Homo sapiens: one gene and its partner. The protein of the gene in region 2 purifies or fractionates together with the protein of the main gene of each other region. This does not show direct contact. Each region holds a gene or a part of one and is shown on either strand. Other genes may lie near its edges.

What was found. Proteins that work in one complex are often made in the same cells at the same time.
Region 1: the proteins of ARNT (region 2) and CUL2 purify together in Homo sapiens (affinity purification with western blotting; 2 studies listed by BioGRID, with this or other methods). This does not show direct contact.

What each region holds. Positions count from the first base shown.
Region 1 is NC_000010.11:35,031,316-35,034,967, reverse strand, and holds part of CUL2 (cullin-2), read left to right. Parts: intron 1-1,694; coding exon 1,695-1,802; intron 1,803-2,473; coding exon 2,474-2,533; intron 2,534-3,348; coding exon 3,349-3,477; intron 3,478-3,581; coding exon 3,582-3,652.
Region 2 is NC_000001.11:150,866,511-150,870,162, reverse strand, and holds part of ARNT (aryl hydrocarbon receptor nuclear translocator), read left to right. Parts: intron 1-3,652. UniProt on the Homo sapiens protein: Required for activity of the AHR. Upon ligand binding, AHR translocates into the nucleus, where it heterodimerizes with ARNT and induces transcription by binding to xenobiotic response elements (XRE).

The sequences.
Region 1 (3,652 bases), on a different chromosome or scaffold from region 2:
TGCTTAGCCATACGGAGGGTGTCCATTGAACAGTTGTTAACTTTCCACAGGAAAATAAGCTCGCCATTTTTAAATAACTGTGTTTTTGTGTAATTGGCATTGATAACGTAGTTTGTTGTCATGGTAGTAGTATTAATCAGTGGTAATATAGACGACTTGCAATTTGCCTCCTTTCCATATCCTCTGAATTTGGTTGTCCAGGAAGCAAATTTAGATTAAAATAATCTTCTGTAAGTATATGCTTGCTGCCCCAAATACCCAAAACAATAACCCTCATATCCCTAATACTCATCTTTCTCGAATACTTTGCCAATCACATGACTGTAACAGTTTGTACTGTAACAGTTTGTCTTTCCCATCACCAAATCTTGTTATTACTGGTAATGTTTGATGAGCAAGAGAGAAATAACTTCAAATGTTACTGTCTCTTCTTAAGTAGAGCTGTTTGCCCTTCATCTATAAGATAGTATCTGTGTATAGACGTCACTGTTCAGGAGCACTTTTTAGAGGCTGTTACCTTAGCTGCAGATTGGTTTTTGGCAAGTAATAATTTTTAGTTTTTATGTTATGCCACAATAATGTGTAAGTTTTCTATTTTTTTATTTCTTCAAATTCCCTTTACCACAGTTTTCTATTTTTTGTAGAACTATTAGTTTATAGTATTCAGGTTTATTACTCTATTATTTGTCAAACTTACTAGTTTACATTATTACGTTTATAGATTCCATGTCCAATGACATTGGGCATAGAAGCATCGAATTTTGTGTCAAGGCTGGGAGATGGAAACATAAGTGAATACATTTGTGGTAGACTCAAATCCAACTGACTTAGTTAAGTCTTAGGTAGTAACTTCTTCATGGTTATCTCCATTAAGAGGGAAAACTCACTTTTGTACTATTAGGTATTTCTTCTCTCTGAGATGTGAGGGATTGTCTTGCCGAGTTCAAGGGGTCTCTGTTCTCAGGATTATTGGCTTTTTAACTCTCCTTTCTCTCAGCCTTTAGTGACTTTGCAGGCAGTCTTTGCTTATTTAAGCCTCTATGAAAGTGATAGACCTGGTAGTTCAGGTCTTGTTATCCTTAAGATAAGTTATTCCAACACAGTAGAAAAGTATGCTTTTGGTGGGTTCTTCTGACAGGTACTAGACAGTCTATGACAGCTTGTTGTGTTGAATGACAAGCTATTTTCTTTCTTCCTTTTTTTTTTTTTTTGTTGTTGTTGTTGTTTTTCTGAGACGGAGTCTCACTCTGTCGCCCAAGCTGGAGTGCAGTGGTGCGATCTCTGCTCACTGCAACCTCCACCTCCCTGGTTCCAGCAGTTCCCCTGCCTCAGCCTCCCGTGTAGCTGGGATTACAGGTGGACGCCACCACGTCTGGCTAATTTTTTTGTATTTTTAGTAGAGACGGGGTTTCACCGTGTTGGCCAGGATGGTCTCGATCTCCTGACCTCATGATCCGCCCGCCTCAGCCTCCCAGAAGTGCTGGGATTACAGGTGTGAGCCACTGTGCCCAGCCTTCAACACCAAAGTTGTAAATTTCTAAGACCGTCTTAGCTAAAACCATTTTCTGAGAAGTGTGCATGTGTGAAACATAATTTCCTTGAGGAAAAATTTACTAATAAGTCTAATAAACCTCATAGTTTGGATATCCTTGAACCTCTTAAAATGTGGTTTTGTACTTATATTTCATTTTTAGATGCCAACACTATTTGTGGAGTCAGTTTTGGAAGTGCATGGTAAATTTGTTCAGCTTATCAACACTGTTTTGAATGGTGATCAGCATTTTATGAGTGCGTTGGATAAGGTAAGTTTTAAATACATATATACTATATATGTACATAAAACTCTATCATTCTTTAGGCAGTTTCAAGATCAGAATTCTAGTATGAGGTTTCTGATGTAGACATGGAGATTAAGTAATTTTGATATGAAATTCAAAATAGAAATAATATAATTTTTAAATTATTAACTGAATAGTTAAATTGAATGCTTGTAGAATGTCCCGTGATTATGCTATATAAGGGGAATTTTTAATCTGATATGTTCTGGATAGACATGCATAATTTTGCAATTTTTAGTACTGATTTTTTTTCTTTGGCCATAATACTTAGGCTATATTGAATAATATTTGAAAAGAGAATAGATATGTTTTACATGAACTTTTGCATACGTTAAAGGAAAGCTGCTTACAAGATTGTAAGTTTTTTTTTAAGTAACGTTATTTTATCTGTTCAAATTTCGATAATGAGTTACAGAATATCTTGGAATAGCAACAGGATATATAGATATTTTGTAATTAGAGAATAAAGTCAGAGGAGTCTACCATGTTAGGCATGAAAATATTAACAAACTACCGGCAATGCTGTGTTTTATGTGGCGGGGTAATTTTTGGATGTACAGATTATGGCTTATATTGAACTAGCTGTACTTTTTCCCTATGGCTGGTGGTTAATTATGGCGTGTTTTTTTATTCAGGCCCTTACGTCAGTTGTAAATTACAGAGAACCTAAGTCTGTTTGCAAAGCACCTGAACTGGTAAGTTTGGTGGTTGCTGAAAAGTAATCTTATGAAAAGTCAGTATTAGAAAATGAGAACTCAGAATATCAAATTAATTTGGTTTTTGTAGCATTTTTCAGAAAAATAGAAGGAAAATTATCTACATTGTATATAGTTTGGCATTTATGTAAGGAATGCAATATACTATGTGTCTTAAAGAATAACCATTTTACAAAGTTTGGGTTTTAATGTATATCTACTTTGAAATAATTTGCAATACTTTTCATGTAGATTCTGTTACATCTGAAATCTAAAGGAAATCTGATGATAAAGTTTGGGTAACCTTTGAAGGAAACTTGCTTACAAGATTTTTGTAACTTTTTTTTAAAGTACTTGTTCAATGTCAAAAATTATAAAACCACTCGAAACTCACCTAGGTGTTCTTTTAAAAATTTGTATTACTTATATCAGTTGCTTTATTGGTCAATAAGTGATGATTTGATATTTGACTTGTTCTTTTTAAAAATTTACCTTATGATGTATATTTTATTTAGTTTACATTTATGATTATTACATAAAGCTTTAGAAGCCTGGTGTGGTTGTGCATGCCTGTAGTCCCAACTACTTGGGAGGCTGAGGCAGGAGGATCCTTTGAGCCTAGGAGTTTGAGGCTGCAGTGAGCTATGATCTTGTCCACTGCAATCCAGCCTGGCAACAGAGCAAGACCCGGTCTCTAAAAAAAACAGCAAAAATTCTGTCCGCTGATCTTACCTTGTATCACCACTTTGCCTCCTTTGAGGCGTGATATATACAGAAGCACCCTTTGTAAGATTTATTATCAATTTCTACATGAGCTTGCTAAGTACTGTGACAACTTACTGAAGAAGTCAGCGAAAGGGATGACAGAGAATGAAGTGGAAGACAGGCTCACGAGCTTCATCACAGTGTTCAAATACATTGATGACAAGGACGTCTTTCAAAAGGTATGTTGTGAACAGAAAAGTTTCATTTGTATTTTGGTCAACTTTATTTCTGAATGCTAAATCATTAGAAAGGAAGTAATCTTTTAAAATATTTTTAAATGTAGTTCTACGCAAGAATGCTGGCAAAACGTTTAATTCATGGGTTATCCATGTCTATGGACTCTGAAGAAGCCAT
Region 2 (3,652 bases):
TGAATAAGTAACTTGTCTGAAGTCACATAGCTACTAGAAGTTAGAGACAGAATTTTATTGTTGGCAGTCCATCTACACAGTCATCATTCTTAATCTCCAAGTTATGATTTTTTCCATTGTGACTTAGAGTCACCTTCCTACTGAAATATAGTACAATGGATATCTTTTGAGAAGGAGGTAGGTGGAGTATTGTCTTTTTTGTAGATGAAAAGGGTGAAATACCACATTAGGCAGCCTGGGGGCAAGGCATTGCTTGGTTGGAGAACCAAGTGCAAGGTGCTAAAAAAAGGAGCTAGAACAGTAGTTTCCAGGCTGAGTGTGGTGGCTCATACCTGTAATCTCAGCACTTTGAGAGGCCAGGGTGAGAGGATTGTTTAAGCCCAGGAGTTGGAGACCAGCCTGAGCAATATAGGGAGACCTTGTCTCCACAAAAATATATATAAAAAAATTAGCTAGATGTGGTGGTGGATGCCTATAGTCCCAACTACTTGGGAGGCTGAGGTGGTGGGAGGATCTCTGAGCTTGCTAGGTCAGGGCTGCAGTGAGCCATGATCATGCCACTGGACTCTAATCTGGTTGACAGAGTGAGCCCCTGTCTCTAGGAAAAAAAAAAAAAAAGGAGTAGTTTCCTAAAATCTTTTCTGTAACATTCTATAATTCTTCATTTTGTTTTGTTTTGTTTTTTTGAGACTGAGTGTCCTTCTGTCACCCAGGCTGGGGTGCAGTGGCACGATCTCAGCTCACTGCAAGCTCCGCCTCCCAGGTTCACGCCATTCTCCTGCCTCATCCTCGCGAGTAGCTGGGACTACAGGCATCCACCACCATGCCCTGCTAATTTTTTGTGTTTTTAGTGGAGATGGGGTTTCACTGTGTTAGCCAGGATGGCCTCGATCTCCTGACCTTGTGATCCGCCCACCTCAGCCTCCCAAAGTGCTGGGATTATAGGCTTGAGCTAGCGCGCCCAGCCTAACATTCTATATTTCTTTCTCCTAGTTCTATGTTTCAATTCTTTAAATACTTTTAAGGGTTTTTTTGAGACAAGGTCCTGTTGTGTCAGCCAGGCTGGAGTGCAGTAGCGTGACCATAGCTTCCTGCAACACCTCCAATTCCTAGGCTCAAGCGATTCTCACTCCTCAGTTTCCTGAATAGTTGGGACCATAGGTATGCACCATCATGCCCAGCTAATTTTTTAATTTTGTAGAGACAGGATCTCGCTATGTTGCCCAGGCTGGTCCTTTTTTTTTTAAATTTTATTATTATTTTTTGAGACGGAGTCTTGCTTTGTCACCCAGGCTGGAGTGCAGTGGCGTGATCTCGGCTCACTGCAACCTCTGCCTCCCGGGTTTAAGCGATTCTCCTGCCTCAGCCTCCTGTAGCTGGGACTACAGGCACGTGCCACCGCGCCTGGCTAATTTTTGTGTTTTTAGTAGAGACGGGGTTTCACCATGTTGGCCAGGATGGTCTCGATCTCCTGACCTCGTGATCTGCCCACCTCGGCCTCCCAAAGTGCTGGGATTACAGGCGTGAGCCACCGCGCCCGGCCTGCCCAGGCTGGTCTTGAACTACTGTCCTCGAGTGATCCTCCTGCTGTTGGCCTCCCAGATTGCTGAGATTACAGGCATGAATCATGCACTGCAGCTTTTAGGATTGTTATTAGAATCCTCTACAAGTTCTTGATACTCCATAATTGAGCCTCTCCTAGAAACTTGGTTTCAGAGACACTGTTGCTAGGTCTTTATCACTGATTGTTCCTTCTTTGTCCTTTTTGCTTATCTTTCTGCTTGTTTCTTTCTCTTGTTCAGTATGCTTCTACTTTTCTCTTCTCACCCTTGAGGCTAGGACTCTTCTTTGAGACAGGGTCTTGACTCTTTTTTGAGACAGGGTCTTGCTATGTTGCCCACGTTGGTCTTGGATTCCTGAGCTCAAATGATCCTCCCACCTCTGCTTCCTGAGTAGCTGGGATTACAAGTGTACACCACAGTGCCCGGCTTGGGGCTAGAACTAAATAGTAAACCAAGCAGTTTCCTTCATTTCTTCCCATTTGCCCACCTACCTGCCTTTCTAGCTGCTTGCCTTCCTACTTCAATTTGACATTCACTTGGTACCTACCATAGTCCTCTTCCCTTTGTATTAGTCCATTCTCACACTGCTATAAATAACTACCTGAGACTGGGTAATTTATGAAGAAAAGAGGTTTAATTGACTCATAGTTCCGCAGGCTGTATGGGAGGCAGGGCTGGGGAGGCCTCAGGAAACTTGGAATCATGGCGGAAGGCGAAGGGGAAGCAAGCATGTCTTCACATGGCTGGCAGGATAGAGGGAGAGAAGGGGAAGGTGCTACACACTTTCAAACAACCAGATCTCTTGAGAACTCTATCATGAGAGAGCATTAGGGGAATGGTGCTAAACCTTTGGAAACCACCCCTATGATCCAATAACCTCCCACCAGACTGCACCTTCAACACTGGGGATTACAATTTGACATGATATTTGGGTGGAGACACACAGAGCCAAACCATATCACCCTTTATTTATCTTTTATGTATAAAAGACTCCAAAAATTTCATTCCTGGCTTCTCACATAAACTACTTTCCTATATTTTTATCTATTTAAAAGATATCTCTCTCTTTTTCTTTTAAAGTTGAGACAGGGTTTTACTATGTTGCCCAGGCTGGTCTTGAAATCCTGGGCTCAAGCATTCCTCCCACTTCAGCAACCTGAGTAGCTGGACTACAGGTGTGTGCCATTGTGCCTGGCTGCATCTCTGTTTGAATAGTTTTTTTTTTTTTTAATTTATAGAAATGAGGTCTCACTGTATTGCCCAGACTGGTCTTGAACTGCTGAGCTCAAGTAGTCCCCCCATCTTGGTCTCCCTAGTAGCTGGGATTATAGGTGTATGACACGATGCCCAGCTCTATTTGAGTAATCTGTTTTTTTTTGTTGTTGTTGTTTTTTTTAAAGACAGAGTCTTTCTGTGTTGCCCAGGCTGGAGTGCAGTGGTGCGATCTTGGCTCACCGCAGCCTCCGCCTCCTAGGTTCAAATGATTTTTGTGCCTCAGCCTCTCGAGTAGCTGGGACTACAGTGTGCCACCACGCCTGGCTAATTTTTTGTATCTTTAGTAGAGATGGGGTTTCACCATGTTGGCCAGGCTGGTCTTGAACTCCCGTCCTCAAGTGATCCACCTGCCTTGGCCTCCCACAGTGCTGGGATTACAAGTGTGAGCCATTGCGCCCAGCCTCTATTTGAATAATCTTTAACATCCTATATATGTATGTACTCACCAGTATTTCCTTTAAATCTGCTGTTCTTCCTACCTTTCTGTATCTTTCATCACTATCACAATTCAGTTTTTCATTTCCCCAGGCTAAGGAACTATAAGTGTTTGGATTTTATTTTTTATGTGTTTATCTGGGTTATTAACTCTTCTCAGGTCTTTTGCCAAATATACGTGTGTGTGTGTGTATATGTATGTGTGTATACATACATATATAAAAGTTATTTAAATCAAAACTATACATCCATATATTAATATTTAAAGACTTAGATAGTTTTATAAAATGTTTGTTACAAAAAAATTATAAGGGAGTCCTCTGCTCCCTTTCTCTCATTTCCTTCTCTCCAGTGGCATCATTTTTATTTCTTTTAACAGA